Homo sapiens: one gene and its partners. The protein of the gene in region 6 interacts with the protein of the main gene of each other region in a biochemical or structural test. Each region holds a gene or a part of one and is shown on either strand. Other genes may lie near its edges. The genes, in order: ARHGEF7, FKBP4, RRBP1, ITK, NRXN3, MPDZ and SLC26A3.

Region 1 (4,167 bases), on a different chromosome or scaffold from region 6:
ATCCCCCGAACCCACGGGTCCCTGCCTGGAGACACTGGGAGACCCGGTCCTCTGCGTGCTTCAGAGTCAGGCACACCTGGCTTTGTTCCCGCAGCCATTTGCTCTGTGACTTCCGGCACCTGTCTAACCTCTCGGAGTCCTAGTTTCTTCCTCCTAAAAATGAGATGAATGATATCCACTGGTGGGGGCAGTGAGGTCATTACCAGGGTAAATGAGTAGATGTGCTGGGCACAAAGTCATTCCTCAGTACGCAGTAGTTACTGTTTTGTTGATTGACACTGAAAACCTTCCCCATCGTGTCCAGAAGACTGTAAGCCAAGATTTGAACCTCAGAGCCATCCAAATCCAGGAACACGGGTTAATTCTCACAACAGGGCAGACTCTTGCAACTTTCGGGGGCTGGCAGCCTCTGCATCCCACTCTGGACAGACCACCATTGTCTGGGTTGGTGGGCCTGCTGAACGTGGCTTCCAGGGCCCTCTGGTCAGCGCCAGATCTGGGCGCAGCTGCTGAGTGCACACAGCTGCTGGTTGGGGAGCGGGAGGGCTGAGCGGGTGGACTCAGGTTTCGCTTATATAAAGTTTCATGCATCAGCAGGGCCGGGAGTCAGAGATGGGAAGTGAGGGCCAGCCTGCCCCACCTGGTGTCTGCAGAGAGAGGGCTTTGGGGCCGCCCCGGTCCGACTGCTTCCCGGGTACAGCTTCTGACTTCTCCCTCCTTTATCAGTTCTGTCAAGTTAGGGTAGGAGAATTAATCTCTTGATGTTTTTATATTTCTAACTTTAGCTTTGAATTTTTAAGGTTTGATGCACCAGGCTGGCAGTTCTCAACTCTGTTTTTGCAGGATGGTGTCATGTCTGCTGGGGTCTCAAGGCGAGGCGGTGAGGGGAACTGAAATGGAATGTGTGCACAGTGTATTTCAAACACATGTATGTGAATTCATTTAATCATCCCTTTTACCAGGTTCCTATTGTGTGCGTGCTAGTGACCCAATCACACGCATGGAAGCGCACGCATGGATGCCAGCCATACCACCTCTTCAGGCAGGTCAGAAGAGAAATGCTAGGATCTTGGGTATAAAGTATTTGTGAGTTCTCAGGATGAAGGAATGTAGAGTCATCCAGCCCAGACGCCTCCTTTTGCAGATGGCTTCACTGAGGGCACCTGCATGTGGTTGTGTAAGCTGTGTACTGCCCGGTCTTGGGAGAACCGTTCACACTGTAGTCTAAGCAAATGGCTCCAAGGCCTGTGCTGGGAGGCGGCCCTGGGATACTGTGTATAGAGGTCAGCCTCCCAGGACACAAAGCAGAGTGGAGAAGGGTTGGGGTAGACGATAGAAGTGGCCCCAATTCTCCAACCCTCCCATGCCCCTGGCAAAGTGACCTTGTAGCGCCTCCATCAAGAGGTAGGAGTCTGCTTCCTCACTTCTTGAATCTGAGCTGTGACTTGTTTTGGCCAATGGACTGTGGCAGAAGTGGCCAGTGTTAGTTCCTAGCCCAGGCCTTGGAAAGGCTTGCACTTTTCTGCACTCTCTCAGGCCCTGTGTCTACCTCCGAGGAGACCCCAGGGCTTGGGTGCTGGTGGGGTGTGATCACATGGAGGAGAACTCAGTTGTCCCTGCTAGGCCATCCTGGACCTATCCACAGCCAGCCAACCTCAAACATTGAAGAGAGCCCAGCCAGGGTCAGCAAGCTGCCTGCCCTGCCCAGAGCAGGCACAGCTGCACCAGCAGGCCCGGACCAGGCTGACTCAAGCCAGCCACTGAGGTTTACCATGGCCATAGATAACAAATCACACACACACACATACATGCCCGTGCCATTCTTAACTAGGGGACATGCCGATATATGTAAATACAGTCCATCCCAATCACAAGAGTGCTTGTACCTTTGTTTAAAATACCCTCTATATCCTTTATTTCCTTGATAATTTCCTCTCTAGTATTTTCTCTATTCTCATTTTTTAGAAATCTTATTAAGACTAATCAGAGATAATATCTATTGAGTGCATACTGTATGCCAGGCACTGTTCTAAGGACTTTGCCCATAATAATGGATTTAACCCTCCTCACCACCCTATAAGGGAGGTGGTGACAGGATCGCCCCCATTTTCAGATTAGGAAACGGAGCTCCAGAGCGGCTGGTAACTGGCCATCGTTGGCTGGTGGGCTGCGCCCCCCCCCCCCGGCCCCGCCCCCTGCCCCTGCGGCTGCCAGGCCTGCTGGGTTGAGTCTCTCATTTGCTGACCTTTCCACTTGTATGTTTCTTCTCCTTCTGAAAGACATTTCCTTGACTTTATCTCCCAACTTTTCTACTAACATTTTTTATTTTGACCTACTTTGGCTATTTTTTTTTTAATTTCTAAAAGTTCTTTTTTCTCGTTATCTGGTTTCTCTCTGTTTCTTCCCTTTCAGTCAGTCCCTTCCTGTTTCTGGGAAGATTCCTCTCTTCCTGTGAACATTCATTACAGTTTCCTTGAAGGGTGCTTCCTTCCCTGCATTCACTGTCTCTGTTTCCTCTGAGTCCTCTTATGCAATTCTTTTTTTCCATGTTGGAGATTTACTGAAACATCATGTGATCTTTCAAGTGTGAGGCCCTCAAAATGACCAGGAAGTCCTGTGTGACTGCTGGGGCCCAGGGACATGCAGGTCTCGCCATGGGGCAGCCTGGTGATGCCCAGAAGTCTGAACCTGTTGGTCTCTTCTCCAGCAGCCGTGAGTCTCTCCAGAGACTCCTCCATCTGCTGCCTATCAGAGCAGTGTCCATCCTCACCTTGGCTCCTGTCCATGCTGGCCCTCTCCATGTTCTGGCCTCTTTGGTTCACTTTTCCCCAGAGAATAAGCCTCGGACCCCTGCAAGGATGGCAAGAGGGGTGGCCAGCTGTGATGGGGCTGGGGCCCCTAGGCCTGCATCTGACTCTCAGACAGGTGGCTTGTCTACCACCTGGGAGGGTGCACTTGCCACTGGCTACTGGGATGGGACCTTCTAGTCTCTGCTGAAGCCCCACCCATCCTCCGTCTGCTCCCTGCCTTCATAATGGTGGCCTGGGGATAGGTGTCTTCTAGTTTTTTTTGTTTTGTTTTGTTTTTTAGACAGAATCTCACTCTGTCACCCAAGCTGGAGTCCAATGGCACGATCTCGGCTCACTCCAACGGCCGCCTCCCGGGTTCAAGTGATTCTCTTGCCCCCGCCTCTCGAGTAGCTGAGGCTACAGGTGTGCGCCACCATGCCCGGCTAATTTTTGTATTTTTAGTAGAGACAGGGTTTCACCATGTTGGCCAGGCTGGTCTCAAACTCCTAACCTCACGTGATCTGCCTACCTCGGCCTCCCAAAGTGCTGGGATTACAGGTGTGAGCCAGTGCGCCCAACCAGGTGTCTTCTAGTTTTATTGAAGATGATGCTTGTGTTTCTTGTTCTCCTGGCTGTTTTGGAGGGATTTTTTTTCAAGAGAAGTGAGGCTGAAATAATTTTACTGTACTGCTTTGGACCTGGAATCTTTCCATGATGAGAAAAAGAGAGAGAGTGAGAATATATGAATGAATATCCATGTCCTATGCCCTGGGTTTCATATCTCTTCTTCTGAGTACTTTAAAATTACTAGAGAAAACAAAACTGGAAGCTGGTTATTTGAAATGTTCTTTTTTTTCTTGTTGCTTGGTATTTTGTGCATAACTTTATTATTACACTTGGAGCAGCTTTTTTTTTTTTTAGGGGCTGGTGATCATCCTATCTTTTCTCTATAGAAGCTATATATAATTCAGAATCCCAAAAAGTGTATATAAAAGAAACGTAAGCCTCGTCCAGTTTATATTAAATTGCCTTTGTCTAAAATGGGCATCCACAGCTCCAAGTGTGTTTGGATTTGCGTGTTCTCTCGCCATGAAGCCTTGTTCTGACAGTGTGATCTATTAGCAACGCCTTTAAAGTGGCCTGGTTTTGATTATTTGTAAATATTATGGCCAGTGATGGCTTTTCTCCCTCAATTCTGAGTGTCTCACTACTAATTTCCTGTGCCAGAATACTTTTTCACCAATGTCCTGTCCTTAAAGTAGCTTAAGTTCATAAGGGACTTTTAAGTACCCATTTGTAGTTAGCAGATTTTTCAGATGTCTTTTGTTAGGAATACAGATTTTCTGAAAAAGCCTTTTGCTTTCTGAACACATGCCAA
Region 2 (4,167 bases), on a different chromosome or scaffold from region 6:
ATCACATAAAGAGTTTTCTTCCACCTTGGTTCTTAGCCTCTCCGCTTACCTACTTGCTTTATTCTAAAGTGAATGTTAATGTCTGAAGTCTTTATTTCATCCAAAGACCTGCTGTCTTCCCTCTCTGCCTGTTGGATTAAATGAGGTCCCTGGATTGTTCCATTTAATGCCTCAGGCCTTGTTCTTCCTGGGGTGCAGCCAGCCACTTGCATTCCTCCTCATCCTCCTGAGGGGTACCTTTGGAACCCAGTCTAGGCCAGATGAGCTACAAGCCCTGAGCTCCCACAATGTGGCTTCCTCTCTGCATTCTTTAGGCCCTAGAACTGGACAGCAACAACGAGAAGGGCCTCTTCCGCCGGGGAGAGGCCCACCTGGCCGTGAATGACTTTGAACTGGCACGGGCTGATTTCCAGAAGGTCCTGCAGCTCTACCCCAACAACAAAGCCGCCAAGACCCAGCTGGCTGTGTGCCAGCAGCGGATCCGAAGGCAGCTTGCCCGGGAGAAGAAGCTCTATGCCAATATGTTTGAGAGGCTGGCTGAGGAGGAGAACAAGGTGAGGATTGGGGTGGGGAACAGTTGGAATAGCATCCCTCCACTTAACCTGGCTACTGTGGGCTCTTTGTGCCTTTGGTTGTCTGTGCCAATCCCGGAAACCAGAAGTTGCCTTTTCCCTGGAGCATTAAGGAGCACGTGTTCCTGCTGTTGGGGCCAGTGTTCTGTGATCAGTGCGGGAAACCTACCCACAAGCCCCAGAAGTTGGGTTGGTTGCCCTGAGTGTAATTCCCGATTTATGTTTTCTTGTGGGCCAGGCGCCGTGGCTCACACCTGCAATCCCAGCACTTTGCAGAGCCAAAGTGGGAGGATCACTTGAACCCAGTAGGTAGAGACCTCAGTGACTTAGGATGGCACCACTGCACCCCAGCCTGAGTGACAAAATGAAACCCCATCTCAAAAAAAGAAAAGCGAGATGCTTTTTGTGTGTGATTAAATAAATAATACACTTAGTTAAATTCAAACTGTACCAAAGTATACAGTCAAGTCTGCCTCCCCCACCAGAAGCAGCTGCCCCTTCAGGGTCTTGGATGGTCCAGTGTATTGCGTCAAGGCACAGGCAGACGTTCCTGTTGCTTCCTCCCTTTCCCCTAACACAGGCAACGTGCTCCACCTATGATTTGGCGCATACTATGCTTTTTTCACGTAATAGTAGCTGGAGGCTTATTTTACATCCGTATTTAAAGAACTTTTACATTCTTTCTTAGGCTTACATTGTATTCCATTGTATGGATATGGCTTGTCTTAGTCAATCAGTCCCTTTTTAGTCTTCCAGTGGTTTTATTTTTTTTCTTTTTCTGAGACAGAGTTTCGTTCTTGTTGCCCAGGCTGGAGTGCAATGGCATGATCTTGGCTCACTGCAAACTCCACCTCCTGGGTTCAAGCGATTCTCCTGCCTCGGCCTCCCGAGTAGCTGGGATTACAGGCGCCCGCCACCACACCCGGCTAATTTTTGTATTTTTAGTACAGACGAAGTTTCATCATGTTGACCAGGCTCTCGAACTCCTGACTTTAGTGATCTGCCCACCCCTGCCTCCCAAAGTGGTGGGATTACAGGTGTGAGCCACCACACCCAGCCAGTCTTAAACAGTGTTCTAAACCAGCACTGTCCAGTAGAAATACAGTATCAACCACATGTAATTCAAAATTTTCTGGTAACCATGTTAAAAAGGTGAAAAACAAATGGAATTAAATTTTAGTTGCATTTGTGTATTTTTCAAACCATCTTCAAAATCCAATGTATATTTTGCACTAAAAACACGAGTTTGAACTAGCCACTTACAGTAGTGGCTACCATACGGGACAGTGCTGCTTAGAACAGCATTGCAGTGAATAACCTCATGAGTTCATAATTTGTACATATACAAGTGTTCTGTTTTGTTTTGTTTGAGACAGTGTCTCTTGCCCTGCCGCCCAGGCTGGAGTGCAGTGGCACAGTCTCAGTTCACTGTAACCTCTGCCTCCAGGGCTCAAGTGATCCTCTTGTCTCAGCCTCCCGAGTAGCTGGGACTACAGGTGCATGCCACCACGCCCAGGTAATTTTTGTAATTTTTGTTGAGATGAGGTTTCACCATGTTGCCCAGGCTGATCTCAAACTTCTGGGCTCAAGCAATCTGACCACCTCAGCCTCCCAAAGTGCTGGGATTACAGGCATAAGCCACCAGGCTTGGCCTATACAGGTATAGCTTTAGGACAGATGTAGGAGAATGGGTGTATCTGTGTAATTCTGCTGGAAATTAAGTGTGTGTTTTTTCACTTGGGAAGTCAGCCCGTTTGCTGTTCATCTTCCTTGCAGGCCAAGGCAGAGGCTTCCTCAGGAGACCATCCCACTGACACAGAGATGAAGGAGGAGCAGAAGAGCAACACGGCAGGGAGCCAGTCTCAGGTGGAGACAGAAGCATAGCCCCTCTCCACCAGCCCTACTCCTGCGGCTGCCTGCCCCCCAGTCTCCCCACTCCACCCTGTTAGTTTTGTAAAAACTGAAGAATTTTGAGTGAATTAGACCTTTATTTTTCTATCTGGTTGGATGGTGGCTTTAGGGGAAGGGGGAAAGGTGTAGGCTGGGGGATTGAGGTGGGGAATCATTTTAGCTGGTGTCAGCCCCTCTTCCCTTCCTCCATTGCACATGAACATATGTCCATCCATATATATTCATCAGAATGTTAATTTATTTTGCTCCCTCTGTTAGGTCCATTTTCTAAGGGTAGAAGAGGCAAGTGGTAGGGATGAGGTCTGATAAGAACCCAGGGTGGAGAGGGAGACTCCTGGGCAGCCGTTTTCCTCATCCTTTCCCTCTCCCAGTCCATTTCCAAATGTGGCCTCCATGTGGGTGCTAGGGACATGGGAAAAACCACTGCTATGCCATTTCTTCTCTCTGTTCCCTTCCTCACCCCCGACGGTGTGGCTGATGATGTCTTCTGGTGTCATGGTGACCACCCCCTGTTCCCTGTTCTGGTATTTCCCCTGTCAGTTTCCCCTCTCGGCCAGGTTGTGTCCCAAAATCCCCTCAGCCTCTTCTCTGCACGTTGCTGAAGGTCCAGGCTTGCCTCAAGTTCCATGCTTGAGCAATAAAGTGGAAACAATAAAACCTGGGTGTCAGACAACCCTTTCTGTTCAGCCTTGGAGTGGTGGGTATGGGTGGGTACATAATGGGTAGTAGCACAATCAAGGGGTCACCCACTTAGTTCCAGTTGAGCTTAAATAAGTGAGCATCTCATGTAGATGCCATAGTTGGGCAGGAAGCAGCCCCACCATGCATGGCTTCCTGAGCACTGCACAGGCTGCCGCTGGGATTTGTGTCTATGGCTTCGCCCAAGGTTCCCAGCACTCCCTCCCTCCAGCAACCTGGCAGTTTTAGTGCCTCTGGTTTTCTTCCCTGACACTTAGGAAGACGAAAGTATAAAGATCTAGAAGACTGGGACACCATGCATGTTCATTTTGAAGTTGGAATTGGTCTTCTGCCTACCTCTGATCTGGCAGAGGTATCTGCATTTTGGTTTGTTAACAAGGTAAAACTCCTGGTGTCACTGACCTCCTCCTGTCAGATAACTTACATGATTAAGGTTAAGAGTAAAGCAGAGTGTTCACGTCCAGCTTCCTTCTCAGCCTTAACAGGAAAAGGCTTGTGCTTTTTTTCTAACTATGCTTTGACCCTTAACTCCTATGGCATGATGGGGCCCTGGGAGAAGCCAGGCAGCACAAGCCAGTCATGCTGAGCTGCCTCCAGATAATCCTGGCTCCAGGCCAGAGCCCGTGTCTGCCCTCATCCCTCTCTCCTACTGTGAGCTCTCCAGTCCTTTCCCAACAGCGATGTGGTTGTCTGCTTAGCCACATGCCTGTATAGTTCCTTCCAGAAGAAATGTATAATGGTGGAAGATGTATTTCTGTGTGAAAATTTTCACCAAGTCATACAACACAGCTGATGCTGGAGCCAGGATTAAAATTGGGGTGTACAAGTCTCCCAGTGTGAGTATCCCTTGAGCCCAAGACACCAAGGATGCAGAGAACTGTGACTGTGCCACTGCACGCCAGCCTGGGCAAGAGAGTGAGACCATCTCTTTTTTAAAAAAGTCCCTGTGTAACTGCTTTCTTACTGGGCTTACCTCACATCACAG
Region 3 (4,167 bases), on a different chromosome or scaffold from region 6:
TGCTGGGCAGGGGCTGCACTCCTTGGGGGGCAGACTCACCCCTGCCACCTCCTTGGCGTAGTTCTGGCACTCGGCGCTGGCGGCCGCCATGTGCTTTTCCAGCTCTGCCTCCAAATGCGACGTGTGCTCCCTCACCTGGACAGATGCACAGACACGCACACGCATGCGCCAGCAGCCTCTGCTCAAAGGGCACTCACCTCAGGGAGCAGGCTGGCCCTGGGATAGGTGAGGCCTCTCGGGAGATCCCTGAGGCCCACCAGCTACCAAGCAAACGAGAAACTAGTCCGCGGCAAGAGAACCCCTTACGGAAAGTGGCAGGCTGCACCCGGGCACTCCTGGGGACTGACATGCTCTTAGATTTACTTGCAAAAGCAGGTACCAAGGGTACCTTCTCCAGGGCTCCCTGTGGCGTCTGAAGGGGGCAGTGGGGCCACCTTGACTGTGAAGGCCGTGGCAGAAGCCCTGTTCACCAGGGCTGGGCAGGTCTGCACAGGGCCCGTGGCTGGGTCTCAGGGTCCTCTGAGGTAGTCAATGTCTCTCATTAAGGAAAAACAGGATGGACAAGATCCCTTGGCTTGAGAGAGAATGCCTCTCTTAAGGCACACGGTCCATGAGGAAGAAATCAGTGAAGTGTCCTCTGCATTAACGTCACTTTCAAAGAGGCTCCCGGGACAAGAGAAAGAGTTCTCTGAGCAGAGCACATACCTGGTCCGAACTTTCAAGTTCTCCTTTTAGCTTCTCTACAATCTCTTCGAGATGCTTCACTGTGACCCGGGACTACAAAGCAAGGGGAAGGCTCCGTCAGACACGAGCACCTGGGGGTGTCTCCTTCCGAGGCCATGCTAGGACCCGAGCGGGACTGACCCAACTTAGGAAGCCCCGGGGGTGCCCACTCCGCCCAGCTGGGACGGTCACCCTGGCGCCATCTGGCAGTGTCTTCCTAGGCGGGGGCCTCCTGGAGGACGGACTGAGCTGTCATCCCGCAACTGTGCTTCATAGGGTGTCGTGGAAAAGCCCCACCGAGACACACGAGTCTCACAGGTGACAGAGACAATCCTGTCAACTCTCCCCTGGGCTTCATGTGCTCCACGGCGCCGGGAGGCAGGCAGGGCTGCATATACCTTCTGGAGCTCCTCCTCTGCGGCGCCCACCTTGGCCCTCCACACCTGCTCCTCCTCCTCCACGCTCTTCTGCAGGTCTCTGAGCATGCCCTCCTGGGGGGAAACCGAGGTGAGGCAGGGCCCTCTCCCTCCCGAGACCCGCACCACACAACCGCATCTTCCTGTCCCTGCAGCCCTGGTGACCTGCCGTGCTCCGCCTGCTGACTTCATGAGCGCCAGCGTTAGGTGGGGAGGGAAGGCAACCACTGTCCTGGGAGGGAGGTCCTCTGGCCAGTGGGCCAGTGTGGCTGCAGTGCCAGGCAAGGAAATGAGGTCTGTGACCTGCACAGGACCACTAGGATGCTTGTTACTGCCGGGGTTTGCCACCAGCACCAAGTGTGTCAATGGCCCAGGACGAGGAGCACAGGATGGGCTGGCCAGAGAGTGGCAGGGCTAGACCTGGCATTGCTCTTAGTCACAAACGGGGTTCAACCTGGCAGTCACCAGCTGCTTACCCCGTCCTTCCCCTTCCCCAGCTTAGAGACCGGCCCCGAACCTTCAACTTGGCCTTCTCTTCAGCTTAGAAACAATGACGACCTCAGAGGGTGCCATCCATTTACCATGCAGCCGAAGAACGGGGCCCAGAGTCACAAGGCCAGTGGGCTTTTCCAAAACACCAGGCCACCTCCTGCCCCATAGGCCCCGAAGCTCTCCTTCCCTGCAGCCTCCCAGGGATGCCCAGCTGACAGGTTCCCAATGCTCACCGTCTCCGCCAGGATGCTGCGGTACTGGTCACACTCGGCCTGCAGTGTGCTCTGCGTCTCCTCGGCCTCCCTCAACTTGGAGGCCAGGTCCTGAGAGAGGGAAGAACAGGTGTTTAGTTAGCCACACACAAAGGTTCTTCTCTTGGCTTCCCGTTGAAATGACTTGGGGCAGCCCCTCTTCCTGGGGACAGGGGAGCCCAACAGAGGAGCCTTGCCAGGCAGCCACACTTACCGAGGAGGGCTCCGCGGGAGCTGGCGGGTGCTTCAGCAGCGTGGGGCCTTTCTCTTTGAGATCCTGCAGCCACTCGGTGTAATTCTGCAATGAAACACATTCGGTGAGACCCGGGGACATTCCCTGAGAACTGTGAGGTCCCCGGGAACCACCCTCCCCTCCTACCTGTTGTGCCAAGACAGAGAGTTCTGGGAGCAGAGCCAGCAGGGCCTCCATGGTCTGCGCCTCAATCAGACAGAGCTGCTTCTCCGATTCCTCCTGGGGGGTGGGTGGGGAAGAGCGGAAGGTGTTCAGCTGTGGAGGTGTGGGGCACCTCCCCAGGTCTTTACTGATATGCCCGGGTCTCTGCCCCAGAAAGGGCACATCCTCAGCTCTTCAGGGAAGCGACAAGAATCAAAGGAGAAGATGAGGCTCCATGGGGCTGACTGTAAGCAGAGGGGTTACCCAGCCTGTATCTGGTCCATTTCAAACAGACTAAGCTCTGATGAAAGGAGCATACTGGGTCAGGCCAAGATGGCAGGTGCCAGCTCCCGGGACATCTCCCAGCAGGGACAGTCTCCACCAGCTCTCACTTCCCGAGCTCTCTGGGCATGTGTGCATGTGTGGGGGAATTTGGGGGGTCCGCAGTTGATGTGTGAGAGCCAGGGCAGGAAGAAGGGATGGGAGGACACTCATGGCCCCCAATGTTTTGGAATCTAGAGCTGTGATGGGGATGGGGGTGAAGGCAGGGAAGCAGTGCGTCTGCTGGCGGCACCACGGTTAGGGGCTAGTGGCAGCCAGGAAGGGGCAACCCAGAGAGGCTCATCTCCAGCCACCCTGGAGAGGGTGGATCAGCATTCCCCCTCTGCAGAGGGAGAAGCCCACTCAGAGGAGACAGGGACTTTGCACCCTGTGCCATGCTGGGTCGGACACCCCCTCAGTCCTCAACGAAGAGCCAGCGGCCCCCATTCAAAGCACAACAAAGATAAGGAAACAAAAGGAAACAAAGGGGGCCCAAGGGAATCATGAAGCAAAGCCTAGGACCACAGTGTCCCCCGGGAGAGAGCTGGGCTCTCCCACACCCCGAGGGGAAGGCTGCTGGGGTAACAGCCTGTGTCTGGCCCTGCCACCACCTGGACAGGCCTGGCCTAAGACCCAGGGAGGCCCCAGGAACTCCACCTGGATCAGAGCTGATGGAGTGTTAACTCCCCCAAGCAGAGTCCTGGAATGTGCATGAAGGATGCTGACCACCGGACACCCAGCCTGAGCGCAGCGCCCTCTGGCCTGACGCACACCTGAGAAGCGGGCCCTTCCTGGCTGGCCAAGTTATCCACAGGTAGGGCCCGTGACCCATGTGGACCCTTGACCTCACGACCACCACTGAGGCCTCTAGTTGTGAGTCAAGGCAAGCTGGAGACCCAGAGGCCACCTTCTATCTGGATGTGTGACCACAATCAAGTCAGGTGACATCTCTGGTCACAGCTTCATTTACCACATGGTAGCCAGACAGTCTCTGAGGTCACTGGGGGCTACAAGGCCAAGATTCTAGGAGTCTAACTATAGCTCTCACAGGGTGGCCTGAGGCCATCCTTCACCTCCTGCCCTAGCTAGTTGTCCTCATCTGATACAACCCTCAGGCTTCCTGGGAATCACCGCAAAGCTCCTGCCATTGGGGCAGATATTCCTGTGAGAGAGGCTGGGAGTGGAGGCCCTTTCATGAGGTAGGAAAACGTGTGTGACCTCAAAGTGTGGGCAGGGCCTTTAGTTGCAGCTGCTGCTGGCCATGTCCCCTGGCCAGAGCCTCCTCACTGGCTCCTGGACAGCCCAGCACCCCAAAAGCAACCCGTGGGCTCAGACACTGGGAGACACCTGCACACGCCCCACCTGGACAGCATGGAGCGCAGGGCCAACGCGGCCTCTGTTCCCCGAGTGCTCGCTGCAAACAATGTCCTCCCCTCTGTGACTTAAAGACTCCTCATGGGACTGGGCGTGGTGGTTCACCCCTGTAATCCCAACACTTTGGGAGGCCAAGGCAGGCAGATCACTTGAGGTCAGGAGTTGGAGACCAACCAAGCCAACATGGCAAAACCCC
Region 4 (4,167 bases), on a different chromosome or scaffold from region 6:
GAATCTTGATGTGTCCGTGCTGGATGGGATTTCAGATATTACCTGGTCAGCCTACTCATTTTGTTGGTGAGGAAATTGAGCCTCGGAATCTCGTATTTGTTTGTTAAACATTTCTTGAGAGCCTCCCATGTGCCAGACACTGTGCTAGCTTGTGCCTCTGCACAAATTCTCTTTAAATCTTTCTCTTTAACTGCCCCTCTGCCCCAGTAAGGCCTAATAGGGTTATGTGTATATAGCAGGTGCTCTTAATAGATGAATGAATGAAAGAATGATCAGCTCAATGAAATTTACTTAGTGTGAAAAATGACATAGAAAAATGGGACATTGCAAGAACCCTTTCTTTAATATTTTGATTAATATGGTTTCTTTAATATCTTCATTAATGCCACTCTCCTTCTTTCCATGTTACCTTCCCACACATATTTTCATAGTTTTCTAGCATATCCTATGTTATTATGTGGGAAAAAGATAATTTATTTGCCATCTTTGAATTATATTAACAATAGGCTAAAATTCTAGTTAGGGCTTTATAGTCCCCTGGTATCCCAATACCTTATATCTACTGCTTGCTGACCCCAGAGAACTCTCTCTCTCTCTTCCAGGGAAATGGGTGATCGACCCCTCAGAGCTCACTTTTGTGCAAGAGATTGGCAGTGGGCAATTTGGGTTGGTGCATCTGGGCTACTGGCTCAACAAGGACAAGGTGGCTATCAAAACCATTCGGGAAGGGGCTATGTCAGAAGAGGACTTCATAGAGGAGGCTGAAGTAATGATGTGAGTGCTCAGAACAAGGATATGCAGAAACTCTGGGGGGAACATCGGTTCAGTGTTCTTGAAATGCCATTCAAACGCCAGGGGGTACTATCTCCCTGCGCAAACTCCCAGCAGTGGCTTCCTATTGCACAGAGAATACAATCAAACTCTTCACAGTGGTCTCCAAGGCCCACCATAATCTGATCATGCCCACCTCCCCCTTCTCAGCTCCTACCCATCTCTCCTCCAGTCCATGACATGCCAGCCACACTGGCCTCTGCTCATCTTCACACACACAGCTGACTCCTTGCCATTTTTCAGGTCTCAGCTCCAATGACATGTTTTTGTTTTGGGGAGGGAATGAATATTATTTTCATCCAAACCATAAATTAGACAAAATGACCATTGGCTATTTTGGTACCATAATATTTTCGGCATTTTTGGGAGACTGAGTTTAGGCCATCTCACCCCTTGTCTTTTTCCTCCAGGAAACTCTCTCATCCCAAACTGGTGCAGCTGTATGGGGTGTGCCTGGAGCAGGCCCCCATCTGCCTGGTGTTTGAGTTCATGGAGCACGGCTGCCTGTCAGATTATCTACGCACCCAGCGGGGACTTTTTGCTGCAGAGACCCTGCTGGGCATGTGTCTGGATGTGTGTGAGGGCATGGCCTACCTGGAAGAGGCATGTGTCATCCACAGAGACTTGGTATGAGCATGCAGGGTGAACACCCACAGGTCCAGGGTAAAGGGACAGTTCTCACTGAAATGACTGGGAACGCATTAATAAATAATACATTACAGATAATCTCCTTTCCTTTCTCAACTTCTCCCTTCCTTCACCTACTTTGGGTGGTCCTAGTGGAAAGGGCTTCATGAGGACTTACTTCTGGGCTCTGATCCCAGCCCAAACTCTTTCACCTCCTGCATTTCAGTTTATATTCTTCCAAAATGGAGATAACTGCCACTCCTTCTTAACCTCTCTGTGACTCAATTTCCTCCTGGTAAATTGAGGAAACTGAGTTTGTCTGAAGGTATTATTCAAGGGTCTACCAGAATCACACTGGGGAAGCCCTTAAGCTACTCTCAGAATCTCTGGTGGCTGGGACTCAGGAATATTCATTTTAACACATTCCCCGTATGATTTGTATGCACATTAAAATTTGAGATATGCAGCTGGGTGCGGTGGCTCATGCCTGTACTCCCAGCACTTTGGGAGGCCGAGGTGGGCGAATCACGAGGTCAGGAGTTCGAGACCACCCTGGCCAACATGGTGAAACCCCATCTCTACTGAAAATTCAAAAAATTAGCTGAGCTTACTGGCGGGCACCTGTAACCCTAGCTACTTGGGAGGCTGAGGCAGGAGAATCACTTGAACCCAGGAGGCAGAGGTTGCAGTGAGCTGAGATCAAGCCACTACACTCCAGCCTGGGTGACACAGTAAGACTCCATCTAAAAAAAAAAAAAAAAAAAAAATTGAGACACACTGGAGTGTTATCTCCAATGGCTTTTTCAATGCAACAGTCTATAATACTAATTAGGGGTCAGGTACTCTCCCTATTGAAGAACAGTTTTAAGAGGATTAACAACATCAAAACATTCTTAATTTAGTCAACTGGGAGATGCTTTCTTCCTGTTATCCCTGATGTTAACATTTCCTATCACATCAGGTTGCATTAGAGCCTATCTTTGGTTAGACAACACCAAGGATTTCTAATTAGAACTCAAGAATGAAGATAAACTTACTCATCTTGATAGTGGATCTTACACATTCAACTTTCCAGTTAACTTCCAGCGGCATTTGTGAGGCTTAATTAACATTTGTAAAGCTCCATGATGCCCTTGTATGACAGCACTGCAGTAAAGCAAAGGACTGTGATTATAGGAGACTCCTTAACTACTGATGACTCATCAACAGTTTTCCTCTCCGCCTTTGTTTGCCTGTCTCCTCTCCAGGCTGCCAGAAATTGTTTGGTGGGAGAAAACCAAGTCATCAAGGTGTCTGACTTTGGGATGACAAGGTAAAAGAGGGATGTGGTGCCGGTGAAGTCTCAGGAATGGGACTGAGGCCCCCGGAACATTCTGACCTTCTCCCTCCACTCTCTTCCCAGGTTCGTTCTGGATGATCAGTACACCAGTTCCACAGGCACCAAATTCCCGGTGAAGTGGGCATCCCCAGAGGTTTTCTCTTTCAGTCGCTATAGCAGCAAGTCCGATGTGTGGTCATTTGGTGAGTGTCATGCTGGGCCCCACTGCCCCATGATCTGGGCTTCAGGCCAGCTGTTTCCTTTATCAAATGCAGACAACCCTACCCACACTGAACCCTGTATCATATCATGAGGGTGTCCCACTGGAGGGTTGTGTAAGAAAGGCCCCGAAAACTATGAAAGGGCCTTCATCATTTTGTTTGTTTTTAGAGATACTGGACATGGTGGTGGGAGTTAATTAAAAGTGGAAACAAGAGTTCTGGTGCCAGCTGCTGTGAAGTCAAAAGCTGGAGAAGTCAGGAGATTCAAATATGAGCCCCTTGAAGGCAGGGACCATGTTTTGTCCAACACTACATTTCCATACTTATCTCTCAATAAGTATTAATATTTATTCATTCATTCAACAACAATTAACTGATCATCTATTCTATGCCAAGGGCTAATCTAGGTGCTGAGGATGCAGTGGTTCATAGAACAGAAAAGACTTCTGTTCTTTTGGAACTAAATTTGAGATGGGAGGGGAGACAGAAAATCACAAAAGATCATAATAACAGTCATAAACAATAATAATAATAAACAAGCTAAGGGATAGAAGATAAAGCCAGGCAATCATAAGTAGGTGCTATGAATAAAATAAAACAGTAATGGGGCAGAGTGACTAGGATAGAGAGAGGGTCTGCTTTGAATAGTGTGGTGTGGGAAGGCCTTTCTCAGAAGGTAATTCTTCAGCAGAGACTTGAATGATAGGAGGGAGCTGTCACCATTTGAAGAGCCAGGGAACAGTGTCCCTGACAGAGGGACCAGCAAGTGCAAAAACTTGGTGCATCCAAAGAACAAGGGGTACTGACTTATTGGGAGAACAACAGGCAATGAAGCTGGTAGGCCATCATAAGGAATTAGAATTTCTAAAAAGTGCAAATGGCCATGAAGGGATGAATGATGTTGGTATTGCAGGATGTGCCAAATGTTCTTGCTGGATTTGCCATGTCACCTGAAGTCATAGTTTGTGCATACTAAAGTGTGCAAAAAAATATACCAGACAACCTCTTTGATTTGGATTACAAGAATTATACTGTGGACAGAAACTACTTGAAGATTGATTTTTGCCATTCGGTATGAAGGAAGGGTTTGACAAGGGCTTACTAGTAGTAGAAACCAGGGGGGAGTTTGGCTAGGTAAATCTTTTAGGAGAAGAATGAGTGTTAAAAATC
Region 5 (4,167 bases), on a different chromosome or scaffold from region 6:
GTCTGTATGATTCTAAGTGCAATAACGAGGGTCTATGGGTAAACAGATATGTTTTTGCCACACTAGTTAGCAATCACCAATTTAAAAAACTCACTTTGCTAAGTCAACATTTCTGAGTCTAACAGTTTCAAGTCATGGATATCTAGGCTGAGTATTTTGAAAATCTAGCTTCCAGCTCAGCATATATTGCATACAGCATGAAAGCAATGCATACAAATATTAGACTAATGCAAGGCAAGCTGTCATTTAATAGTCAGGGGGATTTCTGGAAAAGCATGGTCAAAATGGATTTGTTAGATGAATATTTTTAACTTTTTAAAAATCCCTATTGCTCAGCTTATAGTAAACAAGGACTGTGATTAATAAGTGTGAAATAAAAGGAAGTAACTTAAGAAAACACAAAAGACACAATCTTTTATGTTTCTTGATCTTGGTCTCAATAAGATGGTGAATCGGTCATTCTCATCCTCCTGGGAGCAAATGAGCAGAATCCCAAGAAGGCAATAAAGAAATCTTAAACGCATGTTAATAAATTCTTAAGTTAAGCACACAATGTGTGCGTGTACCCACACATGCCAATTTTGATAGCCAGCCAGTATTTATAACAGTATCATTGACTGAATGTCATCAGCCCATAAGCAGATCCTGGAAAGAACATATATAGTTGAATTTTATCTAAATAATTACTTGAGAGTATCTTTAAAAAATCTAAGCCCCTGATCTAGGGATTTCAGGTTTGGGTGGCAAGAGGCATACAGAAGGCTCCAAATCTGCCTAGAATGATTAGACTCCATCCAGAAAAGATCCAGATCTTTTTATTATAATTTCTGAGGCATAATCTGTGAATGACGTTGGTTGAGTGAGAGTTGTTTACAAATATACTAATTGTTTTTCTTTTTCTTTTCCATCCCAGGAGGTGAATTAGTTATCCCTCTTCTTGTAGAAGACCCTTTAGCTACCCCTCCTATTGCTACTCGTGCACCTTCCATTACACTCCCCCCTACCTTTCGCCCCCTCCTCACCATTATTGAGACCACCAAAGATTCCCTGTCCATGACCTCTGAGGCGGGGTTACCTTGCTTGTCGGACCAAGGCAGCGATGGTTGTGATGATGATGGCTTGGTGATATCTGGGTATGGCTCAGGGGAAACCTTTGACTCTAACCTGCCCCCTACTGATGATGAAGATTTTTACACCACCTTCTCCTTGGTAACAGATAAGAGTCTTTCCACTTCAATCTTCGAAGGTGGCTACAAAGCACATGCGCCCAAGTGGGAATCCAAGGACTTTAGACCTAACAAAGTCTCCGAAACTAGTAGGACTACTACCACATCTTTATCCCCTGAGCTGATCCGCTTCACAGCTTCCTCCTCGTCTGGGATGGTGCCCAAATTGCCAGCTGGCAAAATGAATAACCGTGATCTCAAACCCCAGCCTGATATAGTCTTGCTTCCGTTGCCCACTGCCTATGAGCTAGACAGCACCAAACTGAAGAGCCCACTAATTACTTCCCCCATGTTCCGTAATGTGCCCACAGCAAACCCCACGGAGCCGGGAATCAGACGGGTTCCGGGGGCCTCAGAGGTGATCCGGGAGTCGAGCAGCACAACAGGGATGGTCGTCGGCATTGTGGCTGCTGCCGCCCTCTGCATCTTGATCCTCCTGTACGCCATGTACAAGTACAGGAACAGGGACGAGGGGTCCTATCAAGTGGACGAGACGCGGAACTACATCAGCAACTCCGCCCAGAGCAACGGCACGCTCATGAAGGAGAAGCAGCAGAGCTCGAAGAGCGGCCACAAGAAACAGAAAAACAAGGACAGGGAGTATTACGTGTAAACATGCGAACACTGCTCACACGCGAGTTTTCACAGTTATTTCTATCCACGCCTATGAATCTTTGGACGGTGAGATCTCACAGATGTCAGAACTGCTGGAACTATGAAATGGGGTATATAACCACGACTCTGGTGGGGAAAACCGTTTTTTAAAGGACACACACACACACAGCGATGCATCTCTCTCTAAAGCTCAGCCACGGCTGCGGCAAGGTCCCAGCGGTCGCTGGGAGACAGAAGGTTTTGTGCCCTGCTGTATCATAAAGCACACACTTAGCGCTCTGGAGCCGGACGGTGGCTCCACCACTTCCGCAGGCCTGGAAACTTCCTTCTCCGGAGGACCTTTTACTAAAAGGTAGAAGACTTCATGGCTTACTTGTTCCATAACTCCAAGTGAGTCTGTAATGTTTGTGAAGCTTGACTGTAACCATGTTTTTTCTGTTTAATTATGTAAAAAACAAAACTACAACAACAAAAAAAGAAAAAAGTTAAAAAAGAAAAAAACACCAAAAAACAAAAACAAACAAAAAAAAAAACCCACAACCCTTATCTGGTTCTGACCAGTGTGCGTGTAACTTTATGATCTGAGGGGAAAAATGGCTTTTGGGTTTTTGTTTATTTTTTTGATAATGACTGGACATCAGAAGAGGAAAAAAACTCAAAACAAAAGCGAGAGAGACTATTGCCATATGAACTCAAAAGCTATCATGGTGTTCACTCTACATATCAGGTTATGGTGTCTCTAGAATCTGTTGTTTGTTTCCTATAAGATGCTTTGCTGAACACATAGCAAAATTCATGTGACGGATGATAAATTGATTCGAAAAGCTGGTCCCCCAGGATCTAATTTCAGAATTTACCACCCAAACCCGGAACAGATGGGTTTAGGGCTGGTGTTATCAGAGCTATTGGCTTTACGTAACAATATTGTTCCTGTCCATTCACCCAGCCAAATTGTGTTAAAGAGGAAAGCCCCACAAACTAAAACAGCCTTTCCTAGGGAAGAGGAAGGGGAGGTGGGCTGGATCTGTGACTGATTGAAATGCATGCAAATAAAAAAGACAATATTAAAGTCTGTTATCAAACCAGACAGTAGGGGAGTTCAACTCGTGATGGAACCACAAAAGGTCACACAAGCCAACCATGTCATGCCAGAGTACAAAACACATAGTTCTTTCCCCGCCCCGAATGTGACAATGGTTTTCATAGTGGTTTAATTTTGTAGCCTGACATTTATGGATAACTCTGTCCTTCCATTTGCTCACTTCTCTCTTCACCCATCTTTTTTAAAAACAAATAAATGAATAAAGCTGCTGTGACACACACACAAAAGGAATTTAATAGTATAATATATATATAAATAAATATATATACAGATATATTTATCATGGTATGTTTGATGGGATGACTGACACAGGAAATCTGTTAAAGTCTTAAAATGGAATGAGAATGTTGTTTTAAAAGAAAATAGCAAAACAACAAAAAAGCAAACCTTAAAATGTGAAGAAAGTGTGAATTTTAGTTTTGTCACAGTTAACTGTGTCAAAGAGAATTAAAAAAAAAAACTTCAGATTTTGTTTACATATTTTACTACATTTTTGCTGGTATAATTCCTTAGCCACCTATGTACATACTGCTTTAAGAAATGTTTTTTTCCTGTTTATTTCTGTTTGGTTTATATTCTGGTTGTCTTTTTCTTTTTGTAAAGAGGAAACAATGTACAGAAAAACAATAAACTGGTTGTATGGCCATAGCTATCCGAAAAGCAAGAGACAAAGCAAGACAAATATTCACACAAAAATGAAGTGTGTCCTCTGGAGGGTCAGATATACAATTTCTTTTGTACAGATGAAAATCAATCAGCTGCTTAGATTTAGAAATCTACTCTTGCTGGTCTTTGTAAGTTGCATGAATATTTGACTTTGAAAAAATATCTTAACGACATGGGGCAAAAAGTGCAATCTAAATGGTAGCCTTTACTAATGTGTGTGGAAAGAGGTGTTCCTCATTATCTAATATTTCAATGTGTTAAGAGTTTAATTTTTTTGTTATCATTAAAAAAGACAGGATTATAAAGAGATATCAAAGCACGATTTTAGATAACCTAAACGGCCCAGCCTATACGAAGTTGATTATATCTCGATGTCTGTAAAAGATTGCTGTTCTTGGAGTCTTGAGGTCTTGTGAATTGATTTCCTGCTTTCTTTCATTTTTTTCAATTTAAGTAATAATACATTTGTTATATTCCTTTCAGTGTAAGTTTCTATTTGGACAATTTTATGGGAACATGTGCATTCTCTATGTGAGCTTCTATCATATTCCTGTTTTA
Region 6 (4,167 bases):
TATATAAAAATTGCCAGATATTTATGTTTTCTTTTGTTTATTTTATATTCTATAAACCAAGGATGAGAATCAAGATCTTTTCATTAAACATTTGTGGCATGACTGCTATGAACAGACCTATCAAGGCAAATAAGATACACTCGTATTCCTCAAAGAGATTATAGTTCAGAAAGCCATTTTAATAAACAATTACAGCATAATCAAAGGTGCCTTTCTGCTTTTTCTTATGAGTATAAATTTGCCAATTTATAAATAAGACTTTTGTATGGTGGTATAATTAAATAATAGTTTTTAAATATGTGATCTCTATAACCTCTGCTTTTACATTTATGTAGACCTCAAGGTCAGGGATGAAGCAGGAGGAGTCATTGACCTTCCTCAAACCTTTAACAAATTAGGAAATGACAATTGATATTAAATACTTTTATACAGTTCTCATTTTGTAATATTTTACTTGTTCTGCTCTCACTCACTTTACTCTTAGAATGCCTGTATACCTACTCTTTCATAATATCAGAGCTTCTCTTTTACCATGAATCTCTTACAGACAGACTCTCTATTCTCGGGATGCGATTTGTTCATTCTGGCTTACCATAGCATAAGTCCAAATATTTTTTCCTATGCAAACATACCATAGCCATTAGGTCTTGGTGTGTGGGATCCTCAGGCTGTCACAAATTTCATTATGCCATCTGCTTCAACCTGAGCTGCGTGTCTTCTGCTGGCAAACTTTATTGAAGTTGCCATGGCTCAGGATAAAAAAAAAATCAATCTTGGCATAAGAAGCTTACTTTTGAAAAAATAATAATTGATCATGCCTGCTATAGATTTTAAAATAAACATTTAAAAGGATTCCCAAAAGTCTCTTCTCAACACATTGATCTCTTTTTCATCTGTGATTGTAGAAAGCTAATATAATGGTTAAGTTATTGGTAACTTTGGTAACTTAATGAGTTTTCTGTTTTATTTTTAAGGATAGGTAACAAACTCTTATGTATAGATTTTGGTGACATATTGTGAAATATTTTGATAGCTTCTGTCAGTGGATGTTCTTTACCTAATGTTTTATTTTAAATGATATCTCAAATGTTTTGTGGATAATACAAGGACTGTATGTTTTCTGTATAATACAAGGATGATAGGAACACCGTGATGAAAAAAAATCTAGGTCACAAACAACTTAGCTGTGTGACTTTACGTAATTTCATCATCCTTAGCATTGAGATGATACTTGAAAGGTTGTTCAGGAGATTGGATCAGAGTTAGATCCTTAAAAAATAGATAAACATTTTTTTTCTGCCAATGTATGTTGAACAACTCTGTATAAGGCATTCTTCTAGAGAACGAGGGCATAGTAAAAATAAAATAGTCAAAAATTTCCACTGGAGAGTTTTTGCATTCTAGTCGGTCTCCACTGACTGGGATGAAAGCTTCATGACAGCAGGGTGTGGATCAGGTGGTAATGAGTGCCATGAATTAAAACAGGGCACAGTAAGTTCGTGGAGTATAATGGTGCTGTCTTAGATAGGAATGCGAAGGAGGACTTTTCTGTGGTGAGATTAGGCACACCTGAATGAAATAAGGAAGCATGTGGATATTTGGGGAAGAATATACCTGTTTGGTAGAGTGAACAGCTTGGCACTTTGAGGCACAGTGAGGAGGGGAGCACAGCTAGGGCTAAGTGGGTGAGGGACAGACTGCTAGGAGATGAGGTCAGAGAGTGACTCAAAAACATCAATGAAGTAAGCTTTCTGATAAGTAGTTACAGATAAAAAGTCACAATCCAGGCACCCAACATAAATATGAAATTAGGATTGACTGCATTGCTTTATTATTATTTAGATTTAACTTCAAACTCTTTTAAAAGGCACACACAAATAATTATAGAATCATTTCCCAAAGTGGGATGATCTTTTCCGTTGTTGTTACGTGTGTCATTGTACTTGGAGTTAGCCAGACAGCACGATTTGAGGGCACAGTCCTCCAGACTGCCAGTGCTGCCCCACACTTCTGATACCAACTGTGGCGAGTTAGGGTCCAGCTACAAAGTTAAAGGTATAAGGATACACAAAACCACCCTCACTTATGATGTCAGCTGCAAATTTGCGAGGTTCCCCTAGCCACCTTGAGGTTTCATAATTCACTAGAAGGTCTTAGAGAGTCTCTGAAATCTGTTAAACTCATGGTTATGATCTATGGTAGGGAAAGGATGCAGTCAAGAGTCAGCCAAAGGAAGAGATGCGTAGTGCAGATTATGGGAGGATTCCAAACTGGAAGCTTCCATTTTGCTGGGAAAGTATAACTCTCCCAGAATCGATGTGTGACAATATGTATAGAGTACAGCCATGTGTCATTAGGTGATTTCATCCTTGTGCAAACATCGTAGGGTATACTTACCCAAACCTTGGTGATATAGCCTACCACACAGCTAGGCTATTTGGTATTGCTCCTAGTCTACCAACCTGTACAGCATGTTACTATATGGAGTACTGTATGCAGTTGTAGCACAATGGTAATTGTCTGTGTTTCTAAATATAGAAAAGGTACAGTAAAAATGTGGTTAAAAGGTAAAAAATGGTACACCTGTATAGGAGACACGTACCATGAATGGAGCCTGCAGGACTGGAAGTTACTATAGGTGAATCAGTGAGTGAGTGGTGAGTGCATGTGAAGGCCTACGACATTACTGTACACTACTAGATAGTCAATATACTGTATGCTACTAGATAGCCAATATAATGGTTGAGTTATTGGTAACTTTGGTAACAATGAGTTTTCTGTTTTATTTTTAAGGACAGGTAAAAAACTCTTATGCATAGAGTTTATACATAAGTTATAAATACTGTACACCTAGGCTATAGTAAATTTACAAAAACTTCCTTCAATAATAAATTAACCTTAGCTTACTGTAACTTTTTTTTCCTTTATAAAGTCTTAATTTTTTTTTAAACTTTTGACTCTCATAATAGCACTTAGCTTAAAGCACAAACACATGTATAGCTGTGTTTGACTGTGTTGCAAACCCAGGAAGATTACCTGATCTTGGTGTTCAGCATTTTTTATTGGCGTGTTATTTCATAGGTGTGATTGATTGCCCTGCCTATATGATTAAAATTCAGCTCCGAGTTTGGGCTTATATCATGTGGCCTTGGGGCCCACCATGAAGAAGAAAGATACCTCATCACTCAGGAAATTCTGAGAGGGGAAATTCTGAGAGTTTAGAGGTTACTTCATAGGATCTGGGGACAGAAAAATATATGTGTGGATGTATATATTTATGGGTGTGTTTTAATGAGTACCCTGAAGTTGAACCCTGGCGGTAGTTTTTGAATTTTCCCATCTAATAAATGGTGCTGCATTGAACATTTAGTGATGCACACACATCTTTGTGTATTATCCTAATGTTCATCCTTGAAATAAATTTCCCAAAATAGAATTGCTGGATTAAAGGATTTGGACATTTTGAAATTTCATTTGTATGTCCTTGTACCCTTGGGATATTTTCTATGAAATAGTTTATGGAATGTCAAAATTCTTAATAATCCCTGCATTACTCTTAGGTAAATATTGCAACTTCAGCAACTTCAAATATTGAATATGCCCACGTTCCTCATCTCAGCCCAGCTGTGATTCCTACTCTGCAAAATGAATCGTTTTTATTATCCCCAAACAATGGGAATCTGGAAGCACTTACAGGACCTGGTATTCCACACATTAATGGGAAACCTGCTTGTGATGAATTTGATCAGCTTATCAAAAATATGGCCCAGGTAAGAACATTTCTTTCTGTTAGTTATTGTAATACCTGTAGTAATTTAAGAATGTGATCAAGTTATGGATAATTTGAAGAATATAGTGACATTTATAACATCTGAAAACATTGGAACAAAAAGTCAGTTTTGTGGGAGTTTAGATGGTTCAGACGTTTTCTATTACAGTTTTATCATCATTTAAATTTGAGTATTATATGTTGTATTATAGAAATATTCTTCAGGATAAAGTGCTAACAATTACCTTGGAAAAATGTTATTCAATTTCTTTTTTTTTTAACAAAGAAATGATTCTGATAAGATGACTGTTACTGCAGTAATTGGCTTTTAAGTTTTTTTTTGAGACATGCCTTGCTCTGTCACCCACACTGGAGTGCAGTGTTGTGATCATAGCTCA
Region 7 (4,857 bases), on a different chromosome or scaffold from region 6:
ATTTAAGCAGAGAAAATGATGTCTGCAAAGAGTGGGCAAATTTGGGACTACAGGAGGCCACCATGGTGGGAGTGGAGAAAACAAAAGTAAGAGCAGAGTCAGATGAGGTTGGAGAGTTGTGCAGGGGGAGATCATGCAAAGACTTTGGAGGCCTGTTTTCCCTCTGTGTAATCATCAGCCCCACAAAGAGGACTAGTGTGAAAAGATCATTCTGATTAATGAGTGGTAAAGAGATGGGGAGGGCTGCGAGAGGAAGCAAGAAGTGCAGCAAAGGTAAGAGTGAAGATGAAGAAAAGTGATGGCTTTGGGATGTATTTTGGAGGCATGCTCAATAGGGTTTAAGGATGGATTGGCTGCGGGTGGGGAGAAGGTCTGCAAGAAGAAGTGTCAGAGATGGTTCCCAGGTCTCTGACATGAGTAAAGGGGAATATTCTTTACTGAAATGGGGAAGACTAGAGATGGAGCAGATTTGGGAGGAAAGATCAAGAGGTCTTAATCTCGATATGTGTCGTGTTTGAGATGCCTATGAGGCATCCAAGCAAAGATGTGGAATAGGCAGTTAAATATGTGGACCTAGAGAGCTGGGGTTAGAAATCTGAATGTTGCTGGGAGCCATAGGACTCTTATTTAGGGTAAGAGGGTAGCAAGAGAGGAGAAGGAAATTCAGAACAGAATCTTAGGAAATGCCAAAGAAAGAGTTAGAGGAGAAATTGGCAAAAAGGATGAGGTGAAAAACAAGTGTGTTAAAAATTTTTTTTTAGCATTTCAAGAAGAGAAGATTTTAGCCCGGCATGATGGCTGAGGCCTCTAATCCCAGCTACTCAGGAGGTTAAAGCAGGAGGATCACTTCAGGCCAGGAGTTTGAGACCAGCCCGGGCAACACAGCAATACCCCATCTCTAAAATTAACTAATTAGTTAAATAATTTTTAAAATAAAAAGAGGAGTTCATGAAAGTGTAGTCAGCAATGCCAAATGCTTTTAAGTAAGATGAGAGTTGAAAGTATTCATTGTGTTTAGCAACATAGGGTTTATTGCTCTTAGGAAGAGCTGTGGTGGGGGCAGAAATTGGAATGCAGATATGGCCTGTGGCTGGGAGTTGGGTGAGTGTTCCTAATGAGGGCCTTTATCATACCAGGAGTTAACCTATACACCACACTTCTGCAGCCCATGACAGATTCCATGGAGTCATCCAGCCAAAAAACACCACCACTAAACTCTCATCTAAACAGGTTGGTGAAATGTCAAGGAGATAACCCTTGAGAAGATTCTTTTTTTTTTTAAGTACACGTGAGCATCTGCTGTGCAATCTCTGCAAACCAATGAAATTACGTACACACAAGTGCATTAAACCACCCACTGGTGGTTTAATCTCACAAGGAACTTGAGGAAGCAATCTTCATCATCACTTCTGCTGATCAAAGTCTCAAAGGTCAAGACCACATTGCAGTCTTTTCATTGTTGTAAAAGTTAATGAGAGTTAATTATTAAAGCTGACAGAAAGGTAATTTGTCCACTGTCTTACATAGCCTATATATAGACATCCCTATGCATATGGATGCACACAGAGCCTGTAGACCTGAGTGGATGGACACTGCCTCTTAGAACTAGAACTTAGAACTTTATCTTGAAAATGTACCACTGTTGCAGAAGCTCCTCACAGAGTATGTGTCAGGTAGGAACCAAATTTATGATTGTTATATTCAAACTGGTTTTCTGTTCCTTGAAAATGGTATTTTTTCTGATCAAAGCCTATTTAGGAGTTATTATGTTCTTGAGTTTATTCCATGTGTGTGAATATTTTGAATGAATCCACTAATAAGATATGCATGTATGTCTGGAGCGCTAGCAATGTAGAATAAATATTTAAGTAGACTTTAACAAGTAAATGGTTGTAGGCATCATTAAGTCTTAAATAGCCTTTTCAAAGATATTAGTGTTCTTGTTTTAATTATTCAGATAATTCCTTTAATTCTCCACTCAAATCTGACTTTATAGATAGATTGTCTGCTCTGAGGGTTGGCAAAAAAAAAAAAAAAAAAAGCAAGCTTTAAGGAAAGAGTTTCTCCAGGAGAGAGAATCACCTACTAGAAAGGATTCAGAAAGGCCATCTGGTCCCAGCCAGGCATAGGGATATGTATCTATAGTCCTAGCTACTCAAGAGGCTAAAGCAGGAGGATAGCTTAGCCCAAGAGTTTGAGGTCAGCCTAGGCAACATGGCAAGACCTTGTCTCTTAAAAAAAAAGGGAGGGGGTAGGGGACATATGGTCTAGAAGTGAGAGATTTATCTGCTAGACATCCTAGAAAGTCCAAGACTAAGGGAAACACGGAGAGAAGAAAAGGCAATGAGAGTAAGAAGGATAGAGACTGGAAAGAGAAGAGAGATGGGGAGAAAATGGTCACTGGAAAGTAGCAGAATGCCCTATGCCACAAGTAGTATAATATAATATAATACATTAGTAATGTATGGGTACTTATCCCATACATTACTAACTCTATCAAGATAAAATCTATTTTATTCTTTAAAATGTCAGGAAAAGATTATACAACTTTCTTTATATATGCAAGTGAGGAACAATTTATCAAATTATTGGACTAAATAATTCTCTTTTCTGAAGTAAGTTAGTCATTTGGAAAAACTGTGTCATGAAATTTGACTGCATAAAGATCATTCCTTTTTTTTTTTTTTTTTCTGAGACGGATTCTCACTCTGTCGCCCAGGCTGGAGTGCAGTGGCACAATCTCTGCTCACTGCAACCTCTGCCTCCCAGGTTCAAGTGATTATCCTGCCTCAGCCCCCCAAGTAGCTGATACTACAGGCACGCTCCACTGTGCCTGGCATTTTTTTTTTTTTTTTTTTGTATTTTCAGTAGAGACGGGGTTTCGCCATGTTGGCCAGGCTGGTCTCGAACTCCTGACCTCAGGTGATCCTCCCACCTCAGTCTCCCAAAGTGCTAGGATTACAGGCATGTGCCACCCCATCCGGCCAAGGATTATTCCTAATGAAAATTTAGGAAGCAACTAATTTGATTTCAGAAACAAGAAAAATGGGGTAACACAATACATACTTTGCCTTCTCCCTCTGGATAAGGGAATAAGTAAGTATATAAAGAAATGAACAAATGTTTAATACCTCCTAAACAGCTCATATTCGACTAAGAAACAAAATCGTTCAGAAAATGAGAATGAATATTTTTCAATTACAAGAATAAATATGTAATAACACAGTCTGGTGCTTCTCTACAATAAAGGTCTTTGATTCTCCAAAGAGAAGAGAAGAGGCTCCTCTAGCCTCTGTGTCACTTTGTTGAGAAGCAAGGGGAAGAATAAAGCAAGTCACCTCAAGGAGATTTGTCCCCAGGCCACCAGGCTCATGTTTTGTGTTGTGGATATTGAGTGTAGGAGTGTGAGGCTTTCATGCTCAAAAGCAAGGACCCTGATGGTGCCTCACCTTGTTCTTTTACCTTGTCTCTCTTGGGGGTAGGGGCTGAGACCCCTGACATTGAATATGTAGCAGAGAAGAAGACGTAGTGGAGAGAGTCAGTTATTCACTAGATGTGGCTTCTCATCCTGGCTCTGGGAAGTTGAGAAAGTCATTTATCTTCTCTCATCTCCATTTCTTCATCTGTAAATTAGCGACAATACAGCCTATCTTGTCTGCCTCCATCCACAGTAATACTCAAGGAAGAAAAGTGAAAGTGCTCAGAAAATCTCAAAGCCTTACAGAAATGGCCAGGGATTCTCTTTTGCCTGCTGTGAGCCTACTGGGTGTGAAATCCCTTGCTATGGTGCATCCCAACATTTCTCTAATGGTTTAGCCTATGGGCCAACAAAGCCTTCTGTTTCAGTGTTTGGAACTCTCAATAACCTTTCACATGATTTGCTTATTGCCCACTGCTTTGTCATCACCCCTGCCAAACCTATCTGTTCTTTAAAGTCTAACACAAGACTCACAGTTCCTTCACAAAACCTTCCTAACTCCAACCCACATTTACATCCCTTCTTCCAATTTATTATCTGCACCAATTATTTTGGGCACTTCTCCTGTGTATGTAAACTTTGGAGTTTAGGTCTACGTCATTTATATATCTTTTGCTCATAGTTCAGTTTATTTCAACAAACTTTCTTGTATACTTACTATGTCATAGGACCTAACAAAAGAGGGAAAAATGGTTAAGATTTGGGCCTTGCCCTTGGGAAACTCAGTCTTAAAGGGAACAGAAACATAAACAAATAATGTATGACATGGAATAGACATATATACAAGGTACTTACAAGAAGGAAATGATCAACTCTATCTAGGGATTCCATGAAGGCTTTACATCATTTTCTTATCTTCTACAACTGTGTTAGGAACTGAGTTCCTGACAAATAATAGGCTGATACATGTTTGTTGAAGGAATGAAGAAATGAATCAATGGTCAGCTGAGTTGTGTTTTGTTTGTTTGTTTGTTTTAGAGACAGGGTTTCTTTATATTGGCCAGGCTGGTCTTGAACTCCTGGCCTCAAGCAATCTCCCCACTTCAGTCTCCCAACGTGCCAAAATTACAGGCATGAGCCACTGCACCCAGCTGTGCTGAGTATTTTTAAGAATGAATTGGAATCTACCAGGTATTGGAGAAGAAGAACACAAAGGAAATCATGTGTACAGAGATACGGAACTGTTAAATATCATAGCGTGTTAGGAACCTGCTGCAATTGTGAAGGAGGAGTGAAGAAGCTTGTGAGATAGACCAGAGCCAAAACATGAAGGACCTTGTATGTCATTCTAGGAAGCTCGGATAGCTAGATTATTTTAAAACTATGTTAAAACAAACTGGGATAAAAATGGAAAACTGCTACTTCTAAAGATAAGCTCA

What was found.
Region 1: the proteins of MPDZ (region 6) and ARHGEF7 interact in a test that uses a peptide from one of them, tested with the Homo sapiens proteins (one large-scale study listed by IntAct).
Region 2: the proteins of MPDZ (region 6) and FKBP4 interact in a test that uses a peptide from one of them, tested with the Homo sapiens proteins (one large-scale study listed by IntAct).
Region 3: the proteins of MPDZ (region 6) and RRBP1 interact in a test that uses a peptide from one of them, tested with the Homo sapiens proteins (one large-scale study listed by IntAct).
Region 4: the proteins of MPDZ (region 6) and ITK interact in a test that uses a peptide from one of them, tested with the Homo sapiens proteins (one large-scale study listed by IntAct).
Region 5: the proteins of MPDZ (region 6) and NRXN3 interact in a test that uses a peptide from one of them, tested with the Homo sapiens proteins (one large-scale study listed by IntAct).
Region 7: the proteins of MPDZ (region 6) and SLC26A3 interact in a test that uses a peptide from one of them, tested with the Homo sapiens proteins (one large-scale study listed by IntAct).

What each region holds. Positions count from the first base shown.
Region 1 is NC_000013.11:111,121,691-111,125,857, forward strand, and holds part of ARHGEF7 (rho guanine nucleotide exchange factor 7), read left to right. Parts: intron 1-4,167. UniProt on the Homo sapiens protein: Acts as a RAC1 guanine nucleotide exchange factor (GEF) and can induce membrane ruffling. Functions in cell migration, attachment and cell spreading. Promotes targeting of RAC1 to focal adhesions. May function as a positive regulator of apoptosis.
Region 2 is NC_000012.12:2,800,803-2,804,969, forward strand, and holds part of FKBP4 (peptidyl-prolyl cis-trans isomerase FKBP4), read left to right. Parts: intron 1-314; coding exon 315-554; intron 555-2,348; coding exon 2,349-2,456; 3' UTR 2,457-4,167. UniProt on the Homo sapiens protein: Immunophilin protein with PPIase and co-chaperone activities. Component of steroid receptors heterocomplexes through interaction with heat-shock protein 90 (HSP90).
Region 3 is NC_000020.11:17,619,594-17,623,760, forward strand, and holds part of RRBP1 (ribosome-binding protein 1), read right to left. Parts: intron 2,355-4,167; coding exon 2,262-2,354; intron 2,181-2,261; coding exon 2,097-2,180; intron 1,955-2,096; coding exon 1,865-1,954; intron 1,215-1,864; coding exon 1,122-1,214; intron 778-1,121; coding exon 706-777; intron 136-705; coding exon 40-135; intron 1-39. UniProt on the Homo sapiens protein: Acts as a ribosome receptor and mediates interaction between the ribosome and the endoplasmic reticulum membrane.
Region 4 is NC_000005.10:157,243,021-157,247,187, forward strand, and holds part of ITK (tyrosine-protein kinase ITK/TSK), read left to right. Parts: intron 1-602; coding exon 603-774; intron 775-1,241; coding exon 1,242-1,458; intron 1,459-2,705; coding exon 2,706-2,770; intron 2,771-2,860; coding exon 2,861-2,979; intron 2,980-4,167. UniProt on the Homo sapiens protein: Tyrosine kinase that plays an essential role in regulation of the adaptive immune response. Regulates the development, function and differentiation of conventional T-cells and nonconventional NKT-cells.
Region 5 is NC_000014.9:79,860,126-79,864,292, forward strand, and holds part of NRXN3 (neurexin 3), read left to right. Parts: intron 1-913; coding exon of another isoform or gene 914-1,216; coding exon 1,217-1,839; 3' UTR 1,840-4,167. UniProt on the Homo sapiens protein: Neuronal cell surface protein that may be involved in cell recognition and cell adhesion. May mediate intracellular signaling. Functions as part of a trans-synaptic complex by binding to cerebellins and postsynaptic GRID1.
Region 6 is NC_000009.12:13,223,977-13,228,143, reverse strand, and holds part of MPDZ (multiple PDZ domain protein), read left to right. Parts: intron 1-3,560; coding exon 3,561-3,770; intron 3,771-4,167. UniProt on the Homo sapiens protein: Member of the NMDAR signaling complex that may play a role in control of AMPAR potentiation and synaptic plasticity in excitatory synapses. Promotes clustering of HT2RC at the cell surface.
Region 7 is NC_000007.14:107,799,927-107,804,783, reverse strand, and holds the start of SLC26A3 (chloride anion exchanger), read left to right. Parts: upstream 1-1,560; 5' UTR 1,561-1,673; intron 1,674-4,857. UniProt on the Homo sapiens protein: Mediates chloride-bicarbonate exchange with a chloride bicarbonate stoichiometry of 2:1 in the intestinal epithelia. Plays a role in the chloride and bicarbonate homeostasis during sperm epididymal maturation and capacitation.